2 separate regions of the Homo sapiens genome follow, and region 1 is linked to region 2. The links come from fine-mapping of genetic effects on gene expression. A gene starts in region 2. The other region holds a variant in brackets. All regions are shown on one strand. Distances are between the middles of the regions.

Region 1 (16,001 bases), 48 kb before region 2:
GAGCCAAGATCGCACCACTGCACTCTAGCCTGGAGACAGAGCAAGACTCTGTCTCAAAAACAAACAAAAAGAAATATAGCATGTTTATACTGTGGGGAAACAAATCAGTGGAGAGGAATATATATATATATTCACACACATATATATACATATATATACAATGATATAGAAGAGAAAGGGGAAAAGTGCTGTTATTGAGTTAGGAAAAAGGGGATGAGACTTCATGCAAAGTAGAGACATTGCCTTAGGCCTTAGTAACATGGGCAGTTCCTCTAGGGTAGGGTAATAGGAGAGAAGGCAGCAGATGCAGGTGGGTGGGCAGATACGGTGAACAGAATCTGAAGTTCTCTTTTACTTACTTCAGTTTTCTCAGTCAAGTAGGACATAAGGTTATCATCTGAGAATGACTATGGGAGGGGAAAGATGAAAATGTTTCGGTGTTGAAATAGGAAACAGAAGAGTGAATGGGCTAGGGAAGTACAGTATGAGTTGTCAGGCATTACTGAGGGTCCCGGCATTGAGATTCTTGATCAAGAATTTAAAATCAGATAATTACAGGTCTTTGTGGCTCAAGCCAGTAATCCCAACAGTTTGAAAGGCTAAAGTGGGAAGATTGCTTGAGCGCAGGAGTTTGAGACCAGCCTGGGCAATACAGTGAGACCCCGTCCCTACAAAGAATTTTTAAAAATTAGCTGGGTGCGGTGGCATTCATTGGTAGTCCCAGCTACTCAGGAGGCTGAGGTGGGAAGATCATTTGGGCCCCAGAGTTCAAAGGCTGAAGTGGGCTAAGATCTCGCCACTGCACTCTCCAGCCTGGGTAACAGGGCAAAACCCTGTCTCAAAAAAAATAAAAATTCAAACACAAAATCAAATAATTTATTATTCTTATGTGTTTTTCTCCACCCACGTTCAACTGCAGGGGTACAGGCACAGAGCAGGGGAGACAGGAATTTAAGTAGGGTTTGTGGTTTTGCCAAGCGAGTGACAAAGCAAAAGGGGAGCAGAGGAGCTGAGGGCATTTGCAAGGATGTAATTATAATGATCATGGAATTTCGGCAGGTATGGTGACTAAAGAAAGCAGTGAGGGGTGAGGCACAGTGAAATACTGGTGTAATTAATGGGTTTTAGGCCCTGGTGGAGCAAGGTCAAAGGTTTGCCGGAGTTGGGTTATTAGAGGGGTTTAGGTGGAAAGATAGACTATGCTTACAAGTTCTATGGCATGACCTGCAAGTACATAGGTAACGCAGGGTGGAGAACAAGATCACTGAAGGAGAGAAGTTCAAGGTAGTCAGAGGCCAGAGTGCTGGGGAGATCGTTTTCGGAGATACTGAATTCACCAAGAATTAAGACAGAAGTAGTGTCACAGAGAGTGACAGTACCAGGGGCTACAATTACTGATACAGGCGGGAGATGCTTCTGAAATCTGAAGATGGCAGCAACCATGCAGGGGTAGTCAGTGTTAAAGTGTAATGACATGAAATTCAAAGCTGAGATCTTCTGGGGAAAGTTATTAGATGATCCACTTTGGGATGTTCATATTTTTTGGTAGTCGCTCATCTCAGAATAAGCAATATCAGAAAGTGAAATTTTAATCACAAGAGGGCGCCAGAGTCCAGCAAATGATTACTTTTGGTTTTCACCTAAAGCTAGGGCAATCATACTTTTGAGAGAGGAAGAGGCCACTACTAATAATTATTTGGGGGCGGTATGTGTAAATTGGGACATAGACTCACACCTTCTCCTACACTATGTAAGCATGGGCAATTTAAGAATGAACTAGCTGTGCACCAAAAGCTCTAATTCCCATAAATCACTCGAAATGCTTTTGACTGCAATCAGGTAAGACAAAAATGGCCAAACTTGATTTTATCTGGAAGAGAGGCTTGAGAAAGACTTTCCCCTCTGGCCCACATCTCTAGTTCTATTTATTGCTTATCCCGTTTTTCCCTTTAGTGCAGTACCGGTTTGACTGTATCTTCAAGTTAAGAGAATTGCTGTATTCCCCAAAATATCTTGGTCATTTGAAAGTAAAGAGTTCTCGGCCGGGCACAGTGGCTCACGCCTGTAATCCCAGCACTTCAGAAGGCAAAGGTAAGCGGATCACGTGGTCAGGAGATCGAGCCCATCCTGGCTAACACAGTGAAACCCCGTCTCTACTTAAAATACAAAAAAATTACCCAGGTGTGGTGGTGTACTCCGGTAGTCCCAGCTACTCAGGTGTCTGAGGCAGAAGAATCACTTGAACCTGGGAGGCGGAGGTTGCAGTGAGCGGAGATCGCGCCATTGCACTCCAGCCTGGACAACAGAGTGAGACTCCATCTCAAAAAGAAAATTAAAACGAAAACATGATGATGGAAATAACAGACACTGGGGTCTCCAAAAGTGGGGGGGGGTGGGGCAGGGGTTGAACAATTACCTATCAGGTACAATGTTCACTATTTGGACATTGGGTACACTAGAAGCTCAGTCCCCACCAGTATGCAATCTGCTTATGTAACAAACAAGCACGTGCAACCCTGAATCTAAAATAAAATAATTTTTAAAATACACAATGAAAGTGGCTTTTGTTAAGTCCCCTGTTTAGCACATCCTCTCCTTAATTAGCCAAACTACTCTCTCTTCTTCTTTTACATATATATATATATTTTTTTTATTTTTTAATTTTTTTAGGGACCAAGCCTCTCTGTGTTGCCCAAGCTAGAGTGCAGTGGTTAATCCCTGGTGCAGTCACAGGGCACTACAGCCTCGAGTTCCTGGCCCCAAGAAATCCTCTCACCTCATTCTCCTGAGTAGCTGGGAATACAGGGGCAGAACATGGCATCTGCGCCTCTTCTTAACAAATGCAAATAAAATCAACTCTGGCTTCTGTTATTCCTTGAAAAAAATGTATGTATGGGTCAGGTGTGGTGGCTTATGCCTGTCATTCCAGCATTTTGGGAAGAAGCTAGGAGTTCGAGACCAGTGTGGGCAACAAAGCAAGACTGTCTCTATAAAATATTAGCCAGTTAATGGTGGCAAGTGCCTATATTCCCAGGTACTCAGGGGCTGAGGTGGGAGAATTGCTTGAACCTAGGAGTTTGAGGCTGCAGTGAGCTATGATTGTACCACTGCACTCCAGCCTGGGCAACAGAGCAAGATCCCATCTCTTAGAAAAAAAAAAAGAAAAGAAAAAGTATGTATTTATAGCTACCAGCACACTTTTAACTATATGGGGCTTATTTCTACCATTCTTTTTGTTTTAGAACAACATCCTTCATCCTCACTGAATGGGATGAATGTAAATAGGACCTCAAGAAAATAAGGCAAAGGTAAGGCTGCTGGGGAGAGCATTTCAAAATAAACTACAAATAGATTTTACAATTTATTTTACTCTCCTTCAACGAACACAAAAATATTGCATTACTAGCCAGGCACAATGGTGCCTGCCTCCAGTCCCAGCCACTGGAGGCTGAGGTGGGAAGGTTGCTTGAGCTCAGGAGTTCCAGTCCAGCTTAGGCAACATAGAGAGGCACTGTCTTAAACGTATATATGTATATGTGTGTGTGTGTGTGTGTGTGTGTGTGTGTGTGTGTAGGATTACTTACATTACTGACATCTTTAACCTAATTATATCTAATTCAATCAAAACATTTTATTACCAACTTATATGTGCATGAGCATTCTACACCTGTAGGAATACCCACAAGGTAATAGTCTTATACAGGATGCTTAGGGTGTTTTGTTTTGTTTTGTTTTATAGGACACATCTTTAAGATGCATTCAAAGAGTGATCTACCACTAGGGTACAAAAGCAAAAAACGTATTCAGTCAAAAATAACTGACAACTGGGGAAAATGGTGAATAGCAGAGAAGATTCTGTTTATTAGTTTTATCTTTAGGTTATCTTTGGCAAAGGAAAAGCACAGTATATTGCTACTACCACGTAGCTTGAATCTAAAACTTATCATTACTTATTATTTTATATAACATTGCCAACACCAACACAACCCCTGCTAATCAAACTGAAAAATTTTCTTTCACTTAAAATTTTTATTTTTTACTTATAGAAAGAGGTATGAACTTTGTTTTTTGTTTTTGTTTTGTTTTTTGTTTTTTTTTGAGACAGAGTCTTGCTCTCACCCAGCCAGGCTGGAGTGCAGTGGCATGACATCAGCTCACTGCAACCTCCGGCTCCCAGGTTCAAGCGATTCTTCTGCCTCCTGAGTAGCTGGGATTACAGGCGCTCACCACCACGCCTGGATAATTTTTGTATTTTAGTAGAGATGGGATTTCACCATGTTGGCCAGGCTGGTCTCAAACTCCTGACCTCAGGTGATCCATCTGCCTCAGCCTCTGAAAGTGCTGGGATTATAAGTGTGAGCCACCGCATCCGGTCTGAATTTTGTTTTTATTTATTTTGTTTTTTTTGGTGTTTCTTGTTTGCTTTTTTGTTTTTTTTTTTTTTTTTGAGATGGAGTCTCGCTCTGTCGCCCAGGCTGGAGTGCAGTGGTGCCATCTCTGCTCACTGCAAGCTCTGCCTCCCTGGTTCAAGTGATTCTTGTGCCTCAGTCTCCTGAGTAGCTAGAATTGTAGGTGTGTGCGACCACACTTAGCTAATTTTTGTATTTTTAGTAGAGACAGGGTTTCGCCATGTTGGCCAGGCTGGTATTGAACTGACCTCAGGTGATCCGACTGCCTCGGCCTCCCAAGGTGCTGAGATTATAGGCTTAAACCACTGCACCTGGCCAAGGTATGAACTGTTTTGTTTTGTTTTTTTTGAGACAGTCTCGCTCTGTCACCCAGGCTGGAGTGCAGTGGTGTGATCTCGCCTCACTGTAACCTCCGCCTCCCAGGTTAATTGGTTAAGACCAATTTTGTCAGTCCAATTTCAAATGTTATAATTAAATAAGTAATTTAGGCTTTTGATTTAAAGTTGCAATACCACAAGTTTGGAGAAAATAGTGGGACACTTGAAATAAGTTAGGTTGGCCATATTTATGGATTCAATTTATTTGCTTTGTCTGGGTTGATTGAGCACTTGGGAAAGTTCAGTTTTTTAAATTAAAAAATGGAAGTACCTTGGTATGCAGAAAAAAGTTAACAGAGCAGATCTGTTTGAGGCTGCTATCCCTAGAAAGCCCTGCTTTTGAGCTTGATTCTTAGGGAGCATCTGGAAGTTGCTTCACAGTGTCCCCAGTTATCAGTTAACTGATAAGGGTGGGTCACACACTTGCTTTCTTTCCTTCTGAGACTCTGTAATTTTGGTTTCAGAGTGTATCTACCCGACCAGCCCTCCTAAAAACCTTGGGCCCTAAGTCTCTAGTAGAGTTCCCTGGGCCAAAGTATTGCACAAATGTTGCATTTTCATTGCTAGGGGAAGTGTGTGCTCTGTGTGGCCCTTCATGGGAAGGCGAGAGCTTGAGGAAGCTTGCCCATGGATTTCTCCGACTCTCCCTATAGCTTACCCTTATCATCCAGCTATGTATCCTTGCAACATTGTTGTAATAGTAATAAATCTTAGCTATGAGTAGAATGATTATATATACTGAATTATGTAAATTGTTTCGGTGAATCTCTGAACATGGAGGTGGTCTAGGGCAATCCCAATGACACTCTAAAGAACTGGATGTTTTAAACTTCCAAGTACAGTTTAAAGTATTTGGAAATGTTTAATGAACTAAGATTGTAAATTGGACCAAACCATTATTGAGAGATTCCTTGGAAGTGAATACTGAAATTTGCTACACCTACTGATAGAGCAACAGTATTTGTAAACTGAATTTACAGCCCTAAGAAAAAGCAGAGTCTTAAATTTACAACTTTAGTTATCTTATATTGATTTCTAAAATTCACATGAACATTTGAATAGACTTTTCAGCCAACAAAAATATCCTTCATTGTGCCCTGACAGGGATATTGAAAAAAACAAAATGAGGTTGGGTGCGGTGGCTATGCCTGTAATTCCAGCACTTTGGGAGGCTCAGGTGGGAGGACTGTTTGAGCTCAGGAGTTCGAGACTAGCCTGCATAACATAGTGGGACCTCGTCTCTACTAAAAATAAAAAAATTAGCCAGGTATACTGGGGCATGCCTATAGTCTCACCTACTAGAGAGGCTGAGGCAGGAGGACTGCTTGAATGCAGGAGTTCGAGGCTGCAGTGAGCTGAGATTATGCCACTGCACTCCAGCTCTGGGTGACACAGCAAGACTCTGTCTGAAGAGAAGAAAAAGAAAAATATCCCTCGAGGAGATCAAAAAAGCTCAAATTTAATATATCTCAGCACCCAATAGCAGATTTCTTGTCCTCGAACAGAAAGACTTCTTTTCCAGTTGTCCACAGTTTCATATCACTAAGATTTCAGTTAAAAAGGAGACTAGGATGTAGACCTGTTTATGCCACGTCACAGGAAACCATATTATACCACTTTACAGAGTCTGCCTCTGATGATAATGTTAAAATGTTATTTAAAAAAAATCAGTAAGTAGGAAGTCCAATTGAACTCATGTAATAGCTGGTAACTCTGTAGTGTTAAAAGCCCAGAAAAAGTTAATAAAAGCTCGTCTTTCTAGTCTTTTAATATTCTTTAATGTTCTAGAGATTTCTCCATTGGATTATGAAGAGTGTGGCAGGGGTCTCAAGTAAAGCAGTAAATACTTGTTATGCATAAAAATGCACTGCTTTGAGACTGGGCACATTGGTTCACGCTTGTAATCCTAGCACTTCGGGAGGCCAAGGCGGGTGGATCACCTGAGGTCAGGAGTTGGAAAGCAGCCTGGCCAACATGGTGAAACCCCGTCTCTACTGAAAATACGCAAATTACCTGGGCTGTGGTGGTGAGAGATGAAGCTGGCTGGGCTTCTGGGTCGGGTGGGGACTTGGGGAACTTTTCTGTTAGCTAAAGGATTGTAAATGCACCAATCAGCGCTCTGTGTCTAGCTAAAGTTTTGTAAATGCACCAATCTATGGGACTATTGGGTTTGTTGTTTCAAGAATAAATGTTAAGAGCTCAAAGGAAGACGAGACCACTGTGGGCTAGAGTGGTAGTGAAGAAACACTTCATGGAGAAGGTGGGCCTGGATCTAGGTATTAAAATTAATACATTGGATTTAAAAATATGACAACGGGGAACGGCATGAGTAGCAAGTGTGTGAACGAAGGATGGAAGTGAGAAAATAAGAGGCATGATTATGAGATGCCTAGCTGTCTTAGAAAAGAAGAGTGGGGAGTGTTGTATGAAAGGACAGAAGGTTAACACTTCTCTTGACAAGGATGGAAGAGGCCCTCGGGCCTGACAACAAGCACACAGTTAAGGCATTGCCACCTACTTCATGGCATCCAACTATCATTTTTATTTTATTTTTTTCAATGAAACAACTACAAAAAAATTTTTAAAAAAAGAAGAAAAAGAGTGGAAAAAGGCTGTGTAGTATCAGGATGTGGTGGCCGTGCTTCTAAGGGTCAGGAGTTTGGACTTGATTCATTTATTTTTTTAAGACAGGGTCTTTCTGTATTGCCCAGGCTGGTGTTGAACTCCTGGCTTCAAGCAAAGCTCCCACCTTGGCCTCCCAAAATGCTGGGATTACAGGACAC[C/T]GCGCCTGGCCAGGACTTGATTCTTTCAGTTGGGAGAAGAACTAGCAGATTTTCAACAGGCAACAATATGAAGAAAGAGTTTGATAGTTCTAGAATAAAGATTATACTGGAGACAGGGTACAGGACAGTTTAGATTGGATTAGAGAACGAAGTATTGTCGGCAGAGACTAGCTTGGAAGACAGCCCAGATATAAAATGATAAATGGTGGCTGGGCGTGGTGGCTCACGCCTGTAATTCCAGCACTTTGGGAGGCCGAGGCAGGCGGATCATGAGGTCAAGAGATCGAGACCATCCTGGCCAACATGGGGAAACCCCATCTCTACTAAAAATACAAAAATTAGTCGGGTGTGGTGGCGTGCACCTGTGGTCCCAGCTACTCTGGGGGTTGATGCAGGAGAATTGCTTGAGCCCGGGAGGCAGAGGTTGCAGTGAGCTGAGATCGCGCCACTGCACTCCAGCCTGGGCGACAGAGCAAGACTCCGTCTCAAAAATAAATAAATAAATAAATAAATAAAAGATAAAATGATAAAGGGCTAAGATAAAGTAAGGTTAGAGGTTATGGAGAGAGACAGATTCCTCAAACATTGTAAAGGAAGAACTGATGGGACTGGTGACCACATGCAAAGGATAAGAGTAACTTTATGAAAGTGGAACAGAATGGTAAGTTTTCAGAATAAAGTGTACATCTATGGGTCATTTATATTATAGTTTTTATTTTTAATGCCAAGTTAGTTGGAGTCTGTGTGTATATAGAAAGGTAGTGTGAAAAGAAAAGTTTAGATCCCTACTTTTTCAGAGAAAACAACTTTCAAAACATAATTCAAAACATAATTGGAACACATATCTTAGAGGTTTAATGCTATGCATTTTAAGATTAAGATTAAGACTGTCCTGAGACTTGGAAGAGCAATCTGCTGGAGTGTTTGGAAGACTTTTCAATGATTTTGTAGGGAAAAGCCCAAGTACTAACATCTTTAGTGATTTCACCACACTGTGAAGTTCTCTGCCAGTGGAATTTGAAGGAAATAAAACTACAGGAATTCATTAGACATTTCCTAGTGTGCCCCTGTTGGTAGACGTACTTCAGGAAAAGGTGAACAGCTCCTAGCCAAAGAGGAAGCAGCTTTCAGAAAACAAAGCCAAGAGTAAGAATTGGCAGTACTCTCAAGACACTGAGCAAGTTGTTCAAGACAGTCTGGTCTTCCTGTTTTGTGGGATTTGCAAACATATTTTGCACTTAAATGGCAAATCTTTTGACAGCATAGGACTTTAGTTTCAAGTATATTTTTATACAAGTATATTTTATACACCTACTCTAATAATGAAATTCAAATATTCCCATCCTAATCCCCACTGCCTCCAAAACAATACAATTAATCCTTCTCTGATGGAGAGAATGACAAATTCCCTTCTGCCAAAAGCAACCAGTCTTCTTATTCCTTTAAAACACTGCCAACTATTTCCCTTTATTTTAAGGCAAAAGAACAAATAAAATAAAATGAAGCTTTCTTGCATTACCAAGTAAGGCTAACTGATCTAGGATCTAAAATATACTGAAGATGTGCAAAACTTGTGCATACACTTGGAATTATTGGCAACTGTGAGTGAGTATTTTATGCCTATGCTCTTGGTTATATTGAATATCTATAGCAAAGTTATTCTCCATGTCCAAATGGGACCCTAAACATATATCATCAATATTATATGCTCTGCAGCAGACAACTGCCTGGCTTGAATTCTTTTGTTTGTTTGTTTGTTTGTTTGTTTGAGATGGAGTCTTGCTCTGTCACCAGGCTGGAGTGCAGTGGCACGATCTCGGCTCACTGCAACCTGTACCTCCCAGGTTCAAGCGACTCTCCTGCCTCAGCCTCCCGAGTAGCTGGGACTACAGGCGCCTGTCACCACGCCCGGCTAATTTTTTGTATTTTTACTAGAGACGGGGTTTCACCATGTTGGCCGGGATATTCTCGATCTTTTGACCCCGTGATCTGCCCGCCTCAGCCTCCCAAAGAGCTGGGATTACAGGCATGAGCCACCAAGCCCGGCCGGCTTGAATTCTTTACAGCTGAGGTGTGTTAGGTCTTTGCAAAGCAAACAAAATCATTTCCTACTTGAAGAAAAGAAAACTAGAGAAATGGAAGAGGAAAGAGAAAATTTGCAAAGTGATCAAAAAGGAATAATTATATTTAAAGAGTTACCTTTTCTTTTAAAGTTTGGAGCTGGCATACCTTTGGTCCAGCTGTGGCTTTAAGATTTTCTGGTACAAAAGTAGAGAGTAAGTATTTCAGGGTAATCTGTAAAAAAAAAATATTGTGCCACTGGAATAATTTTATTCCGATAATATCAGAAAAATGTAGTTGCCTTTTGCCTTCTCATGTTTAAGGAAAGTCTTAAACATGAGTTTAAGTTTCTTTCTTTTTTTTTTTTTTTTTGAAACTGAGTTTCGCTGTTGTCACCCAGGCTGGAGTGCAATGGCACGATCTCAGCTCACTGCAACCTCTGCCTCCTGGGTTCAAGCGATTCTCCTGCCTCAGCCTCCCAAGTAGCTGGGATTACAGGCGCCCACCACCACGCCCAGCTAATTTTTGTATTTTTAGTAGGGACAGGGTTTCCCCATGTTGGCCAGGCTAGTCTCGAACTCGTGGCCTCAGGTGACCCAAACTGCGGGGATTAAAGGCATGAGCCACCGCGCCTGGCCTGAGTTTAAGTTTCTTAGGCAAAGCTCTCCAGTTATATTTAAGCTCCAATATTCGAACATTCTAATTAAACCTCTTTGAAGAAATAGTTCTACATGTTGTTAACTATGGAAACCAGCCATGACTGTCAGTTTGCTGGGGCCCTGGATCATTGAATTCAGCTACTAGAATCCACTTGTCATTAACAGTTTACAAAAGCAAAAAGAACAGGAGAGTATTCCTTTCTCTGGTCTTTCCCTCAGTTCTTTCATCTTTTCGCCTCATCCTCAATTCCATCCCCCACTCTCTTCTCACCTCTCCAGTTCTTAGTAATTTGCAATACAATGTTTTGAATTACCCTCAATGCTTTATTGGTTTTAAGTTGGAACCCCATTAAACTGGCATTGTGCTGAACACTAGTTTCATTAAATTAAAGTATAATTTGTGGCATAATAGCAGGCTAATAAAACATTTTTAATTAATTAATTTACATCTATTTAAATGGAAACCTACCCTATTAGTGTAAAGAATTTGGGTGGAAGGGAAAGAGAAAAGGTAAAGTACAGAAAGTTCTGTGCTACTAAACTACTGAAACAAATATTTCTAAAAATATAATCTCTCGAATTTATTTTCTTATTTATTTACTATTTTTAGAGACAGGGTCCCTCTCTGTTGACCTGGCTGGAGTGCAGTGGTGTGATCAAGGCTCACCGTAACCTCCAACTCCTGGGCTCCAGTGATCCTCCTGCTTTAGCCTCCTGAGTAGCTAGGATTACAGGTGTGTACTACTGAGACAGCCAAGTATAAAGGGGTCCCCGGAGAACCTCTGACCAGCCTGTACACTGGGAGAACGGGGTGGAGCCATGGGAAGTTTGAGCCCTTTGCAGTGGGGAGGAGCCTGGACGCTCCTGTTCCCGGGTGGTAACCTGTGATTCAATCTGTGAGGTGAGAGACCAGCTAGCAGAACTCTCACTTTGCTTAGAGTCTCTGTTTCCCCTTTCTCCTTTTCACGCAATAAATTCCATTTTTCTCACCTTTCAAAGTGTCTGCAAGCCTAATCTTTCCTGGTTGTGTGACAAGGACCTTAAGGAGAAAGTCCTACAACACTACCATGCCCAGCTAATTAAAATATACATATATATATATATATATATATAAATAATTGTAGAGATGGGGTCCTCCTATGTTGCACTGGTTGGTCTTGAGCTCCTGGCCTCAAGCAGTCCCCCTGCCTCGACCTCCCAAGGTGATGGGATTACAGATGTGAGTCATCACATAACGCCTAGACTCTCAAATTTCTTGGCCGAAAGTTGACATGGGGCATTATGGGACTTTATCCATTAGTAGCAGGTTGGATGGCAGCCCATGGAATAGTGCCATTGATAAGGCCCTTTGAGGTAAGCAAAATGATACTTCACCGATATTCATTTTGTGATCTTGGCTTCTAAGACCTCTCTTTAGATATTGCTGAATTTTAAATTGCTTGGGGAGCTTTAAAAAATCCCAAAGCCCTGCCACACTCATACCAATTAAATCAGAATTTCTTCCAGGAGACTCCAGTATGCAGATAGGTTGAGGACCAGTGCTTCTTAACACTTAATGTACATATGAATGACTTGTGGATCTTGATGAACTTGCAGGTTTTGAGTGTAGGCTTATGCTGAGGCACAAGATTCTGCATTTTTAAAAAATATGTTTTTATTAAATAGGGAACACTTCACAAATTTGTGTATTATCTTTGTGTAGGGCGCCGTGCTAATCTTCTCTGAATTGTTCCAATTTTAGTATATGTGCTCTCAAAGCAAGCACAGATATTGCATTTCTAACCAGCTCCCAGGTGAAGCCCACAATAGTCCTCCCTGGTCCTTGAGTAGCTAGGGAGTTAGGAAGTATTCCCTCTATTTCTGTCTCCTAAAAGAGATTACAAAGAACTGTACAGCTGCTTCTTTCAATGTTTGATATAATTTGCCAGTGAATCTATCTGGGGCTAGGGACTTTCTGTTTTGGAAGTTTATTAATTATTGATTCAATTTTTAAAATAATCCTGGGTCTTTACAGATTGTCTAATTTGTGTGTGTGAATTTTGGCAGATTGCATCTTTCAAGGAATTGGTCCATTTCATCTAGGTTATCAAATTCGTGAGAATAGTTTTGTTACTATCCTTTCAATGTCTGTGGGGTCTTTAAGTGATGTCCACTCTTTTTTTAAAAAAACTTTTACTGACAGGGCCAACCAGGTAATGTCTACTTTTTTTATTTCTGATATTAGTGATTATGTCCTCTCTCTTTTTTTTTTTTTTTTTGCAGTTAGTGCAACTGGAGACTTATAAATTTTATTGATCTTTTCAAATAACCGGCTTTTGTTTTTTTGTTAATTTTCTCTATTGATTTTCAGTTTCATGTTTTTTCTGATTTTTATTATTTCTTTTCTTCTGCTTAATTTGTCTTTAATTTACTCTTCTATTTCTAGTTTTCCAAGGTGGTAGTACACATTATTGATTTTGGATTTGTCTTTTTTTTCTAATATATGTTTCCAATGACATAAATTTCCCTTTTATTGCAATTGCTGCATCCCACAAATTTTGTTAATTATATTTTCATTTTTATTTAGTTCAAAATTTCTACATATACAATTGAGTATATTGTTGCTATTATTATTTTAACCAGTTATCTGTTAGATCAATTAAGAATAAGAAAAATAGGCTGGGCACGGTGGCTCACACCTGTAATCCTAGCACTTTGGGAGGCTGAGGCAGGTGGATCACCAGGTCAGGAGATTGAGACCACCCTGGCTAACATGGTAAAACCCTGTCTCTACTAAAAACACAAAAAATTAGCCAGGCGTGGTGACAGGCACCTGTAGTCCAAGCTACTTTGGAGGCTGAGGCATAGGAATGGCATGAACCCAGAAGGCAGACCTTGCAGTGAGCCAAGATCCCACCACTGCACATTAATGTTCTCCTTTCTTTATGTAGATTTCATTTTCTGACCTTTATTGATTTTCTGATCTTTAACAATTTTCTTCTCTTTGAAGAACATCTTTTGGCTACACATGGTGGCCAATGCCTGTAATCCCAGCACTTTGGGAGGCTGAGGTGGGAGGATCACTTGAGGCCAAGATTTCCAAACCAGGCTGGCCAACATAGTGAGACCCTGTCTCCAATTTTTTTGTTTGTTTGTTTTTTGAGACAGAGTCTCAGTCTGTTGCCCAGGTTGGAGTGCACAGGCATGATCAGGGCTCACTGCAGACTTGACCTCCCAGGCTCAAGTGATCCTCCCATCTCAGCCCCCCAAGTAGCTGGGACTACCAGTGTGTGCGTCACCACACCTGGCTGATTTTTTGTATTTTTAGTAGAGATGGGGTTTTGCCATGTTGCCCAGGCTGGTTTTGAATTCCTGAGCTCAAGTGATCTGCCCACTTCAGCCTCCCAAATTGCTGGGATTACAGGCATGAGCCACCATGCCGGGCCTTCTATTTAAAAAATAAAATAAAGTAAAATAACTTTTTTTTTGAGACGGAGTCTCGCTCTGTCGCCCAGGCTGGAGTGCAGTGGCGCGATCTTGCTCACTGCAAGCTCTGCCTGCCGGGTTCACGCCATTCTCCCGCCTCAGCCTCCCGGAGTAGTTGGGACCACAGGCACCCACGACCACGCCCGGCTAATCTTTTTTGTATTTTTAGTAGAGACGGGGTTTCACTGTGTTCGCCAGGATAGTCTCGATTTCCTGACCTTGTGATCCGCCCGCCTCAGCCTCCCAAAGTGCTGGGACCACAGGCGTAAGCCACTGCGCCCGGCCTAAATAAAGTAAAATAACTTTTAAAAAACATTTCTGCAAGACAAATGTACTGACAACAAATTCCTCTGACGTTTATTTGTCTGAGAAAGTCTATTTCTTCTTTAAATCTGAAGGGAAATTTCACAGTATACAGAATTCTAAGTTGGTGGTATTTTTCTACCAACATGTTAAATATACTGCATTCTCTTCCTGCTTGCATGGTTTCTAATAAGTCAGATGTAATTCTTATCTTTGTTTCTCTATAGTTAAGAATATTTTTCCCCTCTGACTTCATTGAAGATTTTTTCTTTATCTTTGATATTCTGTAGTTTGAATATGATATACCTATGTGTAATTTACTTAGGATTTATTCTTCCTGGTATTCTTCGAGTTTCCTGAATCTGTAGTTTGGTATCTAACATTAATTTGGGAGAAACTGTCAGTTCATAATTGCTTCAAATATTGTTTTTGGCCAGGCGCAGTGGCTCACGCCTGTAATTCCAGCACTTTGGGAGGCTGAGGTGGGTGGATCACCTGAGGTCAGGAGTTTGAGACCAGCCTGGCCAACATGGTGAAACCCCGTCTTTACTAAAAATGCAAAAATTAGTTGGGTGTGGTGGCAGGAGCCTGTAATCCCAGCTACTAGGGTGGCTGAGGCAGGAGAATCACTTGAATTCAGGAGGCAGAGCTTGCAGTGAGCTGAGATTGCGCCACTGCACTCCAGCCTGGGTGACACAGCGAGATTCTGTCTCAAAAATAAAATATATATATATATACACACACACATATATATACATATACATATATAGTTTTTGTTCCTTTCTCTCTTTCTGTATTTTTTATAATTGCCCCACAGTTCTTGAATATTTTGCTCCCCCTTTTTTGGGTCTTTTTTCTCTTTGCTTTTCAGTTTCTACTGGACATCCTCAAGCTCAGAGTATCTTTCTTCAGCTATGTTTAGTCAACCCGTAAGCTCATGAATGGCAATCTTCATAGTGTTTTTAATCTCTAGCATTTTTTTGACTCTTTCTCAGAATTTCCATCTGTCTTATTACATGCCATCTACTTTATCCATTGGAGCTTTCATTTATTTATTTTTCTTTTTTAGAGGCATAGTCTCCTTTGTCACCCAGGCTGGAATGCAGTGACATGATCATAGCTCACTGCAGCCTCAAACTCCTGGGCTCAAGTGATCCTCCTGCCTCAGCTTTCTGAGCACTTGGGACTACAGACATGCACCACTGTGTCTGGGTATTTTTTGTAGTTTTTGTAGTGATTGGATCTCGCTATGTTCTGCAGGGTGGTCTTGAACTCCTAGCTTCAACTGATTTTCCTGCCTGGGTCCCCCAAAGTGCTGGGATTATAGGTGTGAGCCATCATGCCCAGCTTATTTATTTTTATTTTTGGAGATGGAGTCTTGCTCTGTCACCCAGGCTGAAGTGCAGTGGCACAATCTCAACTCACTGCAACCTCTGCCTCCTGGGTTCAAGCTATTCTCCTGTCTCAGCCTCCCGAGTAGCTGGGATTACAGGCACGCGCCACCATGCCCAGCTAGTTTTTTGTATTTTTAGTAGAGACGGGGTTTCACCATGTTGGCCAGGTTGGTCTTGAACTCCTAACCTCAGGTTATCCACCCACCTCGGCCTCCCAAAGTGCAGGCATGAGCCACCATGCCCAGCTGGAAACAAACGATTTTTTTTTTTTTTTTTTGGAGACAGTCTTGCTCCGTCACTCAGGCTGGAGTGCAGTGGTGCGATTTCGGCTCACTGCAACCTGTGCCTCCCATGTTCAAGCAATTATCATGCCTCATCCTGCCAAGTAGCTGGGATTATAGGCATATGCCACCACGCCAGGCTAATTTTTGTATTCTTAGTAGAGACGGTTTCACCATGCTGGCCAGGCTGGTCTTGAACTCCTGGCCTCTTATTTATTTTTTGAGACAGGGTCTTACTGTATCACCCAGGCTGGAGTGCGGTAATGTAA
Region 2 (16,001 bases):
CATGCCCGCTTAATTTTTGTATTTTTAGTAGAGACAGTGTTTCACTATGTTGGCCAGGCTGGTCTTGAACTCCTGACCTCGTAATCCACCCGCCTCGGCCTCCCAAAGTGCTGAGATTACAGGCGTGAGCCTGCCCAGATGAATGTACCTGGCCCAAATAACTTTAAAATAGGGAGATTATCCTGGCTTACCCAGTGGGCCTATTGTAATAACAATACTTAAAGGTGGAAGAGGGAGGCAGAAGAAAATCAAAGATGTGATGACAGAAGCAGGGTCACAGGGCTGCTATGCTGCTGGCTTTGAAGATGGAGAAAGAGGCCAAGAGCCAAGGAATGCAGGTGGCCTCTACAAGATTGAAAAGGTTCCAGAAAGGAACACAGACCTGCTGACATTTTGATTTTAGACCACTAGACCCATTTTAGACTTCTGACCCATAGAAATGTAATATACTTGTGTTGTCTTAAACCACTAAGTTTGTGGCTATTTGTTATGGCAGCAATAGAAAACGAATAGAAGTCTATTCAAATATTCATCATTTTTCCAAATCCCAAATCAGCCATTCACACCCATACCCTCAGCACATCCATCAACTTCAGAGAGAAAGTATAGTTATGGGCCAGATATTTATTTCAATTTTCTCTAATTAAAACATTTACCTCGGCCAGATGTGGTGGCTCACACCTATAATCCCAGCACTTTGGGAGTCCAAGGCAGGCAGATCCCTTCGAGGCCAGGAGTTCAAGACCAGCTGAGGCAACATGGTGAGACCCCATCTCTACTAAAAATACAAAAGTTAGCCAGGCATGGTGATGCATGCCTGTAATCCCAGCTACTTGGGAGGCTGAGGCAGGAGAATTGCTTGAACCCAGGAGGTGGAGGTTGTGGCGAGCTGAGATTGTGCCACTGCACTCCAGCCTGGGCAACAGAGTGAGACTCTGTCTCAAAAACAAACAACAACAACAACAAAAAATCCATTTACCTCCATGAGGATACATCCAACTTCCTTCCCTTTTGTTACAATTTTTTAAAAAGTTTCTGTATTAGTCTGTTCTCATGCTGCTAATAAAGACATACCCGAGACTGGGTAATTTATAAAGGAAAGAGGTTAATTGACTCACAGTTCAGCCTGGCTAGGGAGGCCTCAGGAAACTTACAATCATGGCAGAAGGGGAAGCAAACACATCCTTCTTCACATGGCGGCAGGAAGGAGAAGTGCCGAGCAAAAGGGGAAAAGCCCCTTATGAAACCATCAGAGCGCGTGAGAACTCACTATCAGAACAGCAGCATAGGAATAATTACCCCTGTGATTCGATTACCTCCCACCAGGTCCCTCCCGCAACACGTGGGGATTATGGGAAGTACAATTCAAGATGGGCTGGGAGCCGTAGCTCACGCCTGTAATCCTAGTACTTTGGGAGGCCGAGGTGGTGGATCACCTGAGGTCAAGAGTTCGAGACCAGCCTGGCCAACATGGCAAAACCCTGTCTCTACTAAAAATACAAAAATTACCAGGCATGGTGGCAAGTGCTTGTAATCCCAGCTACTCAGGAGGCTGAGGCAGTAGAATCGCTTGAACCCGCAAGGCAGAGGTTGCAGTGAGCTGAGATCACACCATTGCACTCTAGCCTGGGTGACAGAGCAAGACTCCGTCTCAAAAAAAAAAAAGGTGAGATTTGGGTAGGGACACAGCAAAACCATATCAATTTCCTTTTTAAAAAAAATATATAAAGGCAATTTTATAACTTATTTGATGTATTTGATGCTCAGTGGTTAGTTCTCATCCACATTGACTATCTGCAGATTTTTGAAAATGGTAACAAGTATATAGGTAACCAGGAATGTAACAAAATATAGAGCTTGTTTGGTGATTCTTTACCCTCATTACATTTTCTGAACAACTGCACACAGATGCGGTATGGAACATTCCTTATTCCTTTGGCCCAGACAGCTTTGTTGAACCTGGTATTAACACACACATCTGGAGTTCCCATCTCCTTCATGGCAAATTTCCGGATCTCTCTGAGTGCCCCAGGGACACACTTCTTGAAGCCCACTCTATGAATGCGCTTGTGAATGCTGATGGCTTATTCTTGGGTCACTACCTCGTTTATGGCAGAATAGCCCTTCTTCTTCTCGCCGCTTTTCTTTGCAGGAGCCATTCTGCCTGGCCCAATTTGGAAAAGAAGAGCGTGAGGGATTCTTAAGTTTCCTTTTCTTTTCTAATTCTAATTCCTCTGGATCCCATTTCATTATGCTTCCTAAGGGACCTGACACTACCAATAACCCTTTCTTTCTTTATGGCTTGTCCTCTTGGCATGCACACATGTTCTAGTCTGTCTAATTCAAACCAAATGAATATTTTCTCTGAACCCTAAGATAGCCTCTAGCTATATTCCTTTCTCTCACCTTCCTTTTATACTGAAATCTTTAGGAAGAGTTTTAAACTGTTTCCATTATTTTATTTACAATAACTGTTTGCACCATTATAGACTGAACTTTCTCTTGCCATATTAGTCAAAGGCCCTGATAGCTGTGAGCTGGGCTGTGGGGGAATACTGTGCACATAGCCTCTCTTCCACTGTTATTTTCTTAACTTGGAGTGGTAATGAAAATAGATATACTCGGACTGAATACATCTGTTATATATGTAACCCAAATGTCCCCAGGCCCATGGTGAATCCTGTCTGAAACCTGACCTTGCCAGGGAAAATTGACAATTCTGGAGTTCACCTTTGGAGTAAGCACTAAGAAATGTAGCATACTGGGGCCTTACCAGCTCTTTGCAACTGGTGCACAGGCATTCAGCAGGAGTCTCAATATGGGGCCTTATAAATACTGGGCAGTGACTCTTGCCTGGTAAAATAAAAGAAAGGTCCTGTGGTGGAGGGCAGAGGGCAATGGCTTGGAAGGCTGTGAGTCACTTAACCTTTAACCTTGTGCAAATCAGTCTCCTTTGCACTGGTGACTTATCTGTAAAATGAGGAAAGTCATCTAACATCTGACCTAATGAGGAAGGTCCTTTTTCTCTAAAATTCTATGGCTAGCTCCAAAAACAATGCTAACTTACAAGTTAAAATGACTCATTTCTATACAGTGCAATACATTTATAAAATGCTGGCTTTAATCTGAACTTATCAAATAGAATTTGATAAAATATTAGGATGAGGTTAGGAACTAATAAAACTTTATTTTGAATTTTTATTTGATTTACCACTGCCTCCCAATGTAACTTTAGTTAGCAAATAAACCGACCTATAAATATGAAACATCACAATCTAAAATATTTTTAAAATTAGACTAAAATTAAGGAAACTTTTTTTTAGTTTTAGTCCTATTTCAAGTGAGGACTCTATTGTCATGTGTCTTTATATGTATATTTTATCAGTTTATTTTACTTTTAAAATCCATTTTTCATTATAAAATTTATAATTTTCTAAATTTGTTACATAAAATTTAGAAAATTACACTAAAATACAAGATAAAAGACATTCCATGTTACTACCCAGAACAAATGAACACTTTCCTGCTATTTTCTTTCTTTCTCTTTTTCTTTAGAGTGGGGTCTCACTCTGATCATGGCTCGCTGCAGCCTTGAACCCCGGGGCTCAAGCAATCCTTCCACCTCAGCCCCCCAAATAGCTAGGTCCACAGGCATGTGCCATCACATCCAGCTAATTTTTAAAAAATTGTTTGTACAAATTTACAAGAAAAAAACAAACAACCCCATCAAAAAGTGGGCGAAGGACATGAACAGACACTTCTCAAAAGAAGACATTTATGCAGCCAAAAAACACATGAAGAAATGCTCATCATCACTGGCCATCAGAGAAATGCAAATCAAAACCACTATGAGATATCATCTCACACCAGTTAGAATGGCAATCATTAAAAAGTCAGGAAACAACAGGTGCTGGAGAGGATGTGGAGAAATAGGAACACTTTTACACTGTTGGTGGGACTGTAAACTAGTTCAACCATTGTGGAAGTCGGTGTGGCGATTCCTCAGGGATCTAGAACTAGAAATACCATTTGACCCAGCCATCCCATTACTGGGTATATACCCAAAGGACTATAAATCATGCTGCTATAAAGACACATGCACACGTATGTTTATTGCGGCACTATTCACAATAGCAAAGACTTGGAACCAACCCAAATGTCCAACAATGATAGACTGGATTAAGAAAATGTGGCACATATACACCATGGAATACTATGCAGCCATAAAAAATGATGAGTTCATGTCCTTTGTAGGGACATGGATGAAATTGGAAACCATCATTCTCAGTAAACTATCGCAAGAACAAAAAACCAAACACCGCATATTCTCACTCATAGGTGGGAATTGAACAATGAGATCACTTGGACACAGGAAGGGGAATATCACACTCTGGGGACTGTGGTGGGGTCGGGGGAGGGGGGAGGGATAGCATTGGGAGATATACCTAATGCTAGATGACACGTTAGTGGGTGCAGCGCACCAGCATGGCACATGTATACATATGTAACTAACCTGCACAATGTGCACATGTACCCTAAAACTTAGAGTATAATAAAAAAAAAAAAAATTAAAAAAAAAAATTGTTTGTAGAGACAGGGGCTCCCTGTGTTGCCTAGGCTTGTCTCGAATTCTTGGGCTCAAGCAATCCTCTGGCCTCCTCCCAAAGTGCTGGGATTACAGGTGTAAGCCACCACACCCAGTGTAATTTAAAATATTTTTTTTTTGTAGAGATAGGGTCTCAGTATGTTGCCCAGGCTGGTCTTGAACTCCTGGGCTCAAGCAATTCTTTGGCCTCTGCCTCCCAAAGTGTTGGGATTACAGGAGTGAGCTGTCACTCCTTGCCCAGCAATTTTCTATGTATAGGTTTTTTTTTTTTTTTTTTTTTTTTGAGATGGAGTCTCACGTTGTCACCCAGGCTAGAGTGCAGTGACATGATCTTGGCTCACTGCAGCCTCTGCCTCCCTGGCTCCAGCAATTCTCCTGCCTCAGCCTCCTGGGTAGCTGGGATTACAGGCATGAGCCACCATGCCCGGCTAATTTTTGTATTTTTAGTAGAGAAGGGTTTCACCATGTTGGCCAGGCTGCTCTTGAAGTCCTGATATCAGGTGATCCACCTGCCTCGGCCTCCCAAAGTACTAGGATTACAGGCGTGAGCCACCGTGCCTGGCCTCTATGTATAGGGTTTTGATTTGTTTTTACTTTGCATAATTACAGAATGCTATATTCAACTAAGTATCCATTTTTAAAAATGTGCTTCATATCAGTTTCGTGTGTGTTTTCTCCATTTTTGTTCAGTCTCCTCCTGTAGTGCCTTCAGATCTTGCTGGAAATGTTTTCATTTTTTCTGGTATCATAAAATTTTATTCTTTTCACTTATCTGGGTGAGCTAAAAAGAAAATTAAAATAAAATTTATTTTTCGGAGATTTTTCAGTTTTTGCAAACAGTCGTTAACGGCCAGGTCTGAAAACTTTATCTTAATTTTTTTTTTTTTCTTGAGACAGAGTCTCACTCTGTGGCCCAGGCTGGAGTGCAGTGGTGGGATCTCGGGTCATTTGCAACCTCTGCCTCCTGTGTTCAAGCGCTTCTTGTTCCTTAGCCTCGCGAGTAGCTGGGATTACAGCCTCGCCACCACACCCAGCTAACTTTTGTATTTTTAGTAGAGGCAGGGTTTCACCATGTTGGCCAGGCTGGTCTCGAACTCCTGGCCTCAAGTGATCTGCCTGCGTCAGCCTCCCAAAGTGCTGGGATTACAGGCATGAGCCACCGTGCTGGCCTTAATTTTGTCTTAAAATGAAGTATGACTAACATGTATTTCTATATGGGCCTTTAAGGGTCTTGAAACTGACAGAAATTAATTCAAAAGAATAATTTTACCCAAATGTTTGGGCGCATCATGAATATATACCTTAAAATTCTTTTAAAAAGCATGCGGTATGGTATATTTAAAATTCTTTTTAAAAAATTATGTATAGTCAATTTTCTTATCTAGGCTTCCTAGCTAAAACTTTCCTGCATTGGGTGAACCATTAATAGTTATTCCTAGTGTTGATTTAAACAACTTAAATGATACTATGATTTTTGTTTGTAAATGCAAACCAGAAAATATCTGCATGCAGGTACTAATTTCCTAGGGTAGATGCAGCAGGTAGATGTTGGGATGGCTACACTCACAAAGCCTGATGGCCCGTTTCCTGAACATGCGCAATCACTTTCTAGCCTTTCCACACCATCGGAATATTGCACAGAAGTATGTCAGTCACAGGAGTGTAAAGAATAACATTTAAACTATGGTAATATTTTCATTCAGTAAGTTTCTCCCCTTTCCTTCCTTGGGTTAGATTCAGTGCCTGATTTTTTTAGGCCCTGGGGCGCAAGCATCCACTTTCTCAGAATCCCATTCACCAGAAACCACCCATTTAACTTGCTCTGGGTGCGAGCAGCGCTTGTGACTGGGCAACCTGTGCGTCAGCGTCCCCGGTGCTTCGGCGCTCCGGCCAGTGACGGCGACCAAACCCAGCTAGGTCAGACGAGGTACTGATCAGCCCAATGAGCGCCTGGTGATTCTCGTAGTTAATCACTCTGGTTCATTCCGTTCGATCCCGGAGGCGGGAGTGTTTGGCTTGTCCCTGCGTGTCACGGCAGGGTGACCCTAGCCCCGAGGGAGGGCGGTGGTACCAGTCCTGCTGGCGGCTCAGCGCGGCAGGACACGTGTGCGCTTTCAGCCGGGTCGCAGGGCGCTTATCGCGGCCCGGCAGTCGGGGCCACGCCTCACCCCCGCCCGCGAACCCCGACCTGGGGAAACCCGGGGCGCTGGGGAGGGGCCACTGCGTTCAGCTCTGGCGGTCCACAGCCCGAAGCGCGGCTTAGGAAGTTCGTGTCAGCGCTGCCTGAGCTCGTCCCCTGGATGTCCGGGTCTCCCCAGGCGGCCACCCGCCGGCTCCCATCGTGACCTCCAGCCGCAGCGCCTCCCACGCCGGCCGCCGCGCGAGGGGAGCGCTCGGGCGCGCCGGGTGTGGTTGGGGGAAGGGGTTGTGCCGCGCGCGGGCTGCGTGCTGTGCCCACTCAAAAGGTTCCGGGCGCGCAGGAGGGAAGAGGCAGTGCCCGCCACTCCCACTGAGATTGAGAGACGCGGCAAGGAGGCAGCCTGTGGAGGAACTGGGTAGGATTTAGGAACGCACCGTGCACATGCTTGGTGGTCTTGTTAAGTGGAAACTGCTGCTTTAGAGTTTGTTTGGAAGGTCCGGGTGACTCATCCCAACATTTACATCCTTAATTGTTAAAGCGCTGCCTCCGAGCGCACGCATCCTGAGATCCTGAGCCTTTGGTTAAGACCGAGCTCTATTAAGCTGAGTGAGTAAATTGTAAAACCAGTTTCGCTGAGAGTGTGTGTCTGGAAAGGTTGGTGGGCGTTGTGTATATATTTGTTAGAAAATCGGTAACCGTTCAAACGAGACGACTGAGTTTTTTAGCCTTTCGCAGTTTCATTTGAAAGTGGGTATGCAGTTTAAAACTGACAGTTCAAAGTGGTTTTTCAGAAAATGATGCCCTGGTGCAAACTGATTCTGGGTCCCATAGTGTGTTAAGTGTGGGTTGGTAAAAACTCTTGGCCTTTCTCCAAATGTATGAAATTAAAGTTGATATTGGAAGGATAAAAACCCACTGAGCACAGAAGTTACTATAGGTGGAGGAAACATTTGTTGATGTTAATATTTTAAAGGGGTTGACCAATATAGGAATTGGTCAATGACAATTGGGAATAGGTAAATGACAAATTATTGGTCAATCCCTTTAAAGCTTTGGATGGTTTGCTAAAGAATTATTGAACTCCCTTTTGTAATTTTCTGTGGATAGTTGAGTGCTCTTACTCCCTTCTCAGTCCTAGAGATATCCCCTAAAGCTTGGTTTTTAGGAGGATCTTACAGCTCTCTTATCATTTGAATGTCAGCTAGTCATAAATAAATACACCAGAGTAGTAAGGAAGAGATGTTTTTTATTGATATTCTTTACAAAACAGTGCTTTCAGAGTACAGCTTTGACTGGATTGTATAGATCTTGATGAGATCTTGATGAGAAAGGTTTCAACGACAAAGATGGCATGTTAAGTCTAACATTACCCTTCCATTATAAACATTGAAAGATGTTGGTTATTTTATTATTTATTTTATAATAACTTTTAATTGTGAAATAATTTGAGAGTTACTGAAAATTTGCAAAAAATAGTACAGAGAGTTCCCATAATATCATGCATAACAAGGGCCAAAACTAATAACATGGGCATGCTACTATAATACAATGAACTAAACTACAGACTTTATTTGGATTTCACTTGTCTTTCCACTGTCCTTTTTCTGCCCAGGATCCAATCGATGATCTCACTTTGCATTTAACTGCTAAATATCCTTAATTTTCTCTGATCTGTGACAGTTCCTCAGCCTTTCATTGTTTTTTCATGGACCTTGACACTAGTGAAGAAGACCCGGTCAGTTAATTTGTAGAATGCCCCTCAATTTGTGTTTGCTTGATGTTTAGTGTCATGATTAGATGAATGTTCTGCATTTTGGGGAAAAATGTCACAGAAGTAAAGTTTCCATCTCAGTATGTCATATTGGGTACATGATGTCAATACTTTTTTTTGAGACTGAGTCTTGCTTTATTGCCCAGACTGGAGTGCAGTGGCACGATCTCAGCTCATTGCAACCTTTGCCTCCCAGGTTCTAGCGATTCTCCTGCCTCAGCCTCCTGAGTAGCTGGGATTATAGGCGCCTGCCACCATGCCCAGATAATTTTTTGTATTTTTAGTAGAGACAGGTTTCATGTTGGCCAGGCTGGTCTCGAACTCCTGACCTCTAGTGATCCTCCTGCCTTGGCCTCCCAAAGTGCTGGGATTACAGGCGTGAGCCACTGTGCCCTAGCCGATACTTCTTATTACCTATGATGTTAATCTGTTTGCCAGATTCCCTTTGTATTTGAGATCTTGGGAGAGAAACCTGCACTGCCATTTTTCCTTAAACTTTTATTCATTAATTTAAGCATCCATTTGTGGAACATGTTGTTTAGCGGGTTTTTTTTCCTAATGGTTAAACAAAACCCCTATTTTCTTCCTTCTACATTTTTTAATTAAAATTCCCTTCTGTAGGGAAGAGTTGACCCTTCTCTCCTGTTCATTGATTCAGTTATTTGTATCAGTATGGGCTCATGGATATTTGTTTTGTTATATGGGTTATAATCCAATATTATCAGTATTTAATTTGCTGCTCAAATTGTTCTGGCTTTCACCACTGGGACCTTTTTCAGGTTGGCGCCTGTGCCACTTTGACATACACTTGCTTTTTCTTTTTCCTTCTTTTTTTTTTTTTTTTTTTTTTGAGACGGAGTCTTTGTCGCCCAGGCTGGAGTGCAGTGGCACGATCTCGGCTCACTGCACCCTCCGCCTCCCAGGCTCAAGCGATTCTTGTGCCTCAGCCTACCAAGTAGCTGGGATTACAGGTACGTAGCACCACACTTGGCTACTTTTTGTATTTTTTAGTAGAGACGGGGTTTTCCATGTTGGCCAGGCTGGTCTCAAACTCCTGGCCTCAAGTGATCTGCCCGCCTCGGCCTCCCAAAGTGCTGGGATTACAGGTGTGAGCTATCATGCCCGGACTCTTTTTCTTTTTTAATGCATTTCTTGATTTCTGGCATCAGAGAATGCTCAGGCTTATTTTGTATTTTCCATGTCCCAACCTTGGAATGATCCATTTCTCCAAGGCACTGTGATTATTTTGCTTTAGAATGGTATTAGAAGCTAATATCTGGACACTGGATGTTCTATTAGAGTTACTTCTTTTTTTTTTTGAGATGGAGTCTTGCTCCAGGCCAGAGTGCAATGGTGGGATCTCAGCTGACTGCAACCTCCTCCGCTTCCTGGGTTCAAGCAATTCTCCTGCCTCAGCCTCCTGAGTAGCAGGGATTACAGGCATGTGCCACCACGCCCAGCTAATTTTTAATGTTTTTAGTAAAGACGAGGTTTTGCCATGTTGGCCAGGCTGGTCTCGAACTCCTGACTTTGGGTGATCCACCCGCCTCGGCCTCCCCAAGTGCTGGGAATACAGGCATGAGCCACCGTGCCCGGCCTAGAGTTACTTTTGAACTTTTTATGTATAATAAAAAGTTTGTGACTTAGCAAATGCTAAGTCTGAAAAGATTGGTGTCAGGCCTCTGAGCCCAAGCTAAGCCATCATATCCTCTGTGACCTACACTTACACATCCAGATGGCTGGTTCCTGCCTTAACTGATGACATTACCTTGTGAAATTCCTCCTTCTGGCTCATCCTGGCTCTGTACTGCCTCAAGGCTTCACAGACAGCCCCCATTACTTCAGTCAAACCCAAATTTCTTCCTCATCTGTTACCTATCTTGTCATAATTCTTCATAAAAACACACGTGCTCTCCCTGCCAATCGTGTCTGACTGATCTCTCAAACCCCAACACCTTCTACAAAACAACTCCTTTCCTTCCTAGGCATGGTTGGATACTTTCGACTTTGGATACCTGGTTTCGCCATCCTAACAAAGCCATTATATAAACTCACAAAAGGAAACCTAGCTGACCCCATAGATCCTAAATCCTTTCCCCACTCCTCTTTCCATTCCTTCAAGACAGCTTTAGAGACTGCCCCCCACCCTAGCTCTCCCTGACTCATCCCAACCCTTTTCATTACACACAGCCGAAGTGCAGGGCTGTGCAGTCAGAATTCTTACACAAGGACCAGGATCGCGTCCTGTAGCCTTTTTGTCCAAACAACTTGACCTTACTGTTTTAGCCTAGCCATCATGTCTCCGTGCAGTGGCTGCCGCCGCCCTAATACTTTTAGAGGCCCTCAAAATCACAAACTATGCTCAACTCACTCTCTACAGCTCTCATAACTTCCAAAATCTATTTTCTTCCTCACACCTGACACATATACTTTCTGCTCCCCGGCTCCTCCAGCTATACTCACTCTTTGTTGCGTCTCCCACAATTACCATTGTTCCTGGCCCAGACTTCAATCCGGCCTCCCACATTATTCCTGATACCACACCTGACCCCCATGACTATCTCTCTGATCCACCGGGCATTCACCCCATTTCCGCATATTTCCTTCTTTCCTGTTCCTCACCCTGAACACTTGGTTTACTGATGGCAGTTCCACCAGTCCTAATTGCCACTCACCAGCAAAGGCAGGCTATGCTATAGTATCTTCCACATCTATCATTGAGGCTACCACTCTGCCCCCCTCCACTACCGCTCAGCAAGCCGAACTCATTGCCTGAAGTCAAGCCCTTGCTCTTGCAAAGGGACTACACATCAATATTTATACTGACTCTAAATATGCCTTCCATATCCTGCACCACTATGCAAGAGGTTTCCTCACTACACAAGGGTCCTCTATCATTAATGCTTCTTTAATAAAAACGCTTCTCAAAGCCGCTTTACTTCCAAAGGAAGCTGGAGTCATTCACTGCAAGGGCCATCAAAAAGGTATCATATCCCATCGCTCAGGACAATGCTTATGCTGATAAGTTAGCTAAAAAAGCAACTAGTGTTCCAACTTCTGTCCCTCAGGGTCAGTTTTTCTTCTTCGCATTGGTCACTCCCACCTACTCCCCCACTGAAACTTCCACCTATCAATCTCTTCCCACACAAAGCAAATGGTTCTTAGACCAAGGAAAATATCTCCTTCCAGCCTCACAGGCCCATTCTATTCTGTCATCATTTCATAACCTCTTCCATGTAGGTTACAAGCCGCTAGCCTGCCTCTTAGAACATTTCCTTTCCATCGTGGAAATCTGTCCTCAAGGAAATCACTTCTCAGTGTTCCATCTGCTATTCTACTACTCCTCAGGAATTTCTCATGCCCCCTCCCTTCCCTACACATCAAGCTCGGGGTTTTGCTCCTGCCCAGGACTGGCAAATTAGCTTTACTCACATGCCCCGAGTCAGGAAACTAAAATACTTCTTGGTCTGGGTAGACACTTTCACTGGATAGGTAGAGGCCTTTCCCACAGGGTCTGAGAAGGCCACGACGGTCATATCTTCCCTTCTGTCAGACATAATTCCTTGGTTTGGCCTTCCCACCTCTATACGGTTCAATAGAGGACCGGCCTTTATTAGTCAAATCAGCCAAGCAGTTTTTCGGGCTCTTGGTATTCAGTGAAACATTTATATCCCTTACCATCCTCAATCTTCAGGAAAGGTAGAACGGACTACTGGTCTTTTAAAAACACACCTCACCAAGCTCAGCCACCAACTTAAAAAGGACTGGATAATACTTTTACCACTTGCCCTTCTCAGAATTCGGGCCTGTCTTCGGAATGCGACAAAATACAGCCCATTTGAGCTCCTGTATAGATGCTCCTTTTTATTAGGCCCCAGTCTCATTCCAGACACCAGACCAACTTGGACTGCGCCCCCAAAAACTTGTCATCCCTACTATCTTCTGTCTAGTCATACTCCTATTCACCATTCTCAACTACTCATACATGCCCGCTCTTGTTTACACTGCCGGTTTACACTGTTTCTCCAAGCCACCACAGCTGATATCTCCTGGTGCTATCCCCAAACCGCCACTCTCAACTCTTAAAGTAAATAAATCATCTTTGCTGGCAGGGCTATGCTGAACCTCCTTAGGCACTCTCTAATTGGATGTCCTGGGTCCTCCCAATTCTTAGTCCTTTAATACCTGTTTTTCTCCTTGTCTTATTCCGTTCTTTTTTCAATTCATACAAAATTGTATCCAGGCCATCACCAATACTTATATAGGACAATTGTTTCTTCTAACAACCCCACAATATCACCCCTTACCACAAAATCTTCCTTCAGCTTAATCTCTCCCACTTTAGGTTCCCACGCCGCCCCTAATCCCACTTGAAGCAGCCCTGAGAAACATCACCCATTCTCTCTCCATACCACCCCCCAAAAATTTTCACCACCCCAACACTTTACCACTATTTTGTTTTATTTTTCTTATTAATATAAGAAGACAGGAATGTCAGGCCTCTGAGCCCAAGCTAAGCCATCATATCCCCTGTGACCTGCACATATACATCCAGATGGTTGGTTCCTGCCTTAACTGATGACATTCCACCACAAAAGAACTGAAAATGGCCTGTTCCTGCCTTAACTGATGACATTACCTTGTGAAATTCCTTCTCCTGGCTCATTCTGGCTCAAAAGCTCCCCCGCTGAGCACCCTGTGACGCCCCACCCCTGCCCACCAGAGAACAAACCCCCTTTACCCTTTACCTACCCAAATCTTATGAAATGGCCCCATCCCTATCTCCCTTTGCTGACTTTCTTTTCGGACTCAGCCCGCCTGCATCCAGGTGATTAAAAAGCTTTATTGCTCACACGAAGCCTGTTTGGTGGTCTCTTCACACGGACGCGAGTGAAAATTCATATTGCCTTAAAGTTTAAACATTATAGAGGACCTGACTGTATTTGCCAACTTGGATTCAGTCTCTTATGGGAAAGAAGTAAAATTGGTAGTATTTAGTAATTTTTTAAAGCTCCCATTTTTTTCTCAAATGAAACCCTGCCAGTGCTTCCAAAACAAATAATGCATATGTGAGCTTCTATCTATTAGGCTCTGGTAAGAAACCAGGATCATTTTATTAGCTGAGTAGCTTAAACTACATCCTAATATTATAATTTTGGTATCTGTTGATTGAATTCACAGTGAGAAAAGGATTTGAGACCCATATTTATGTTAGTCATACTAGCAATGAAGAAGTACTGTGTTTATGATGAGACATTATTTGGTCTGAGATGGTAACTGTACCCGTGGATTAGAGAGAGGATCCCTTGCAATAATTAATGAGCCCTTCTATGATTTTGGAGTACACACACATTACATGCTCCTTCTTTTATATCTTTGTATACTGGATCATGATGTTTTTTATTGTAGGTCTCAGAATTTTGAGAAGTAATGCCGCTGCTCACATTTAATTTTCTGTTAATAATTCTTTTTTTTTTTTTTTGAGATGGAGTCTCACTCTGTCGCCCAGGCTGGAGTGCAGTGGCGCCATCTCGGCTCACTGCAAGCTCCACCTCCCGGGTTCACGCCATTCTCCTGCCTCAGCCTCCCCAGCAGCTGGGACTACCGGCGCCCCTCCACCACGCCCAGCTACTTTTTTGTATTTTTAGTAGAGATGGGGTTTCACCGTGTTAGCCAGGATGGTCTTGATCTCCTGACCTCGTGATCCACCTGCCTCGGCCTCCCAAAGTGCTGGGATTACAGGCATGAGCCACTGCACCCAGCCTCTGTTCATAATTTTTACTGCAATTCCGATGATTGAATTATAAACTGGAAGGGAGCAGGGATATTGATCTTCATGTAGTTGACATGTACTAGACTCACGGAGAACAAGGACTGGGTTGTAGGCACAATGCTGTGTGGTTTTGGGTAAATCTAACTCACACTCAACTTGATTTTGTTTCCCCCTGGGGACTTAGGATCCCAAAATGTTCTAATGACCCACCTCACTGCTGCTAATCTTCCCACAGTGCCAATTTGGTGGAGTCAACCTTGCAAAGGGAGAAGAGAAAGGGTGATGACTTTCCCAGAGCTTCTGCCGCTGTCCTCCCTATGTCTTCTAGCCCCAGTCACTACTCCTTTTATTTAAATTCATAGGGGCTTCTCAGTCAGTCCCCTCTTAAATGTAAATGAGTTATTCACTTCCTGTGGGCCTGAAGCTGAACCACTGTCATTTATTTTTGACCTTGTTTTCCCAGTTTGGGCAGTGTAAGAGGAGGTCAGGAAATGGAATTGTTTGGGGCAGGCGATTTTGCAGAACATGCACAGATAATAGGTTTCAGGGAGCTCTCATAGGCTATGGAGGGAGGGGTGCAGGACAGTGTCCTCATCTTGGCTCTTGATATTATTATGGTGGACTCTTATGTGGTCTCCCTGCATTGTCCCTACCCATGACCAAAGTCAGAGTGATCCTTTAAACCAAGCTTGTCCAACGTGCATGTGGCCCAAGATGGCTTTGAATGAAGCCCAACACAAATTAGTAAACTTTCTTAAAACATTATGTGATTTTTGTTTTTAATTTAGCTCATCAGCTGTTGTTAATGTTAGTGTGTTTTATATGTGGCCCAAGACAATTCTTCTTCCAGTGTGGCCCAGGGAAGCCAAAAGATTGGACACTCCTGCTTTAAATATAGATATCATTTCTTCACTCAGAACTTTCCTGTGCCTTCCAGTGCCATTCAGATCAAAGCCAAAGTCCTTCCTGTGGTCAGTGGTAGATACAACCCGAGTTCCTGCTCTCTTATCCTCCCTCACTCTGCTTCAGCCTCACTGGCCTCTTTGCTGTTCCTTCGACCAGCACTTGGACATATACTGCTCCTCCAGAAGGCCACCCTCAGAGCTCTGCTTGAGGGCCTCACTGGAAAGGCCTTCCGTGACCACCTCTGTTGCCCAGGTTGGAGTGCATTGGTGTGACCTTGGCTCACTGCAATCTCTGCCTCCCGGGTTCAAGCAATTCTTGTGCCTCAGTCTCCCAAGTAGCAGGAATTACAGGTATGCGCCACCACACCCGGATAATTTTTGTATGTTTAATAGAGATAAGGATTTCACCATATTGTCCAGGCTGGTCTCCAAATTCCGGGCCTCAAGCAATCCACCCACCTCGGCCTCCCAAAGTGCTGGGATTACAGGCGTGAGCCACCATTTCTGGCCCACCCTTCCTCTTTTGCTTTAATTTTTTTTCTCCGTAGCACTGTTGACTGATATTTTTCATATGTAACCTCACTGAGGGCCGGGATGTTTATCTGTTGTTTTGTTTTGTTCACTCCTGTAAGTCCAGTGCCTGCCAGATAATAGAAGTCTAGTAAATATCGAATTATTATTATTATTTTTTGAGACAGAGTTTCGCTCTTGTTGCCCAGAATGGAGTGCAATGGTGCGAGCTCAGCTCACCGCAACCTCTGCCTCCCAGGTTCAAGCAGTTCTCCTGCCTCAGCCTCCCGAGTGGC

What was found. PIP is the estimated chance that this variant, and not a neighbour inherited with it, causes the effect.
Region 1: its variant is fine-mapped to the expression of ABCG2 in testis (GTEx, PIP 0.99).

The regions. Positions count from the first base shown.
Region 1 is chr4:88,197,756-88,213,756 of GRCh38, reverse strand. It overlaps a transcript of ABCG2 not described here, the pseudogene RNU6-818P and the pseudogene RNU6ATAC31P. Among named protein-coding and RNA genes, the nearest start is that of ABCG2, 47 kb to the right of the region's middle. The variant C/T (reference allele first, on the strand shown) is at 7,570.
Region 2 is chr4:88,149,737-88,165,737 of GRCh38, reverse strand. It overlaps ABCG2 (ATP binding cassette subfamily G member 2 (JR blood group)), which reads left to right and starts at 7,099. Exons shown (of 16, transcript NM_004827.3): 1 at 7,099-7,352. It overlaps LOC124900867, which reads left to right and starts at 6,182. Exons shown (of 2, transcript XM_047416558.1): 1 at 6,182-6,268; 2 at 6,656-7,352. The coding sequence starts at 6,182. The coding sequence ends at 7,165. It also overlaps the pseudogene RPL31P24. RefSeq lists silencers at 2,747-3,041, 6,813-7,032.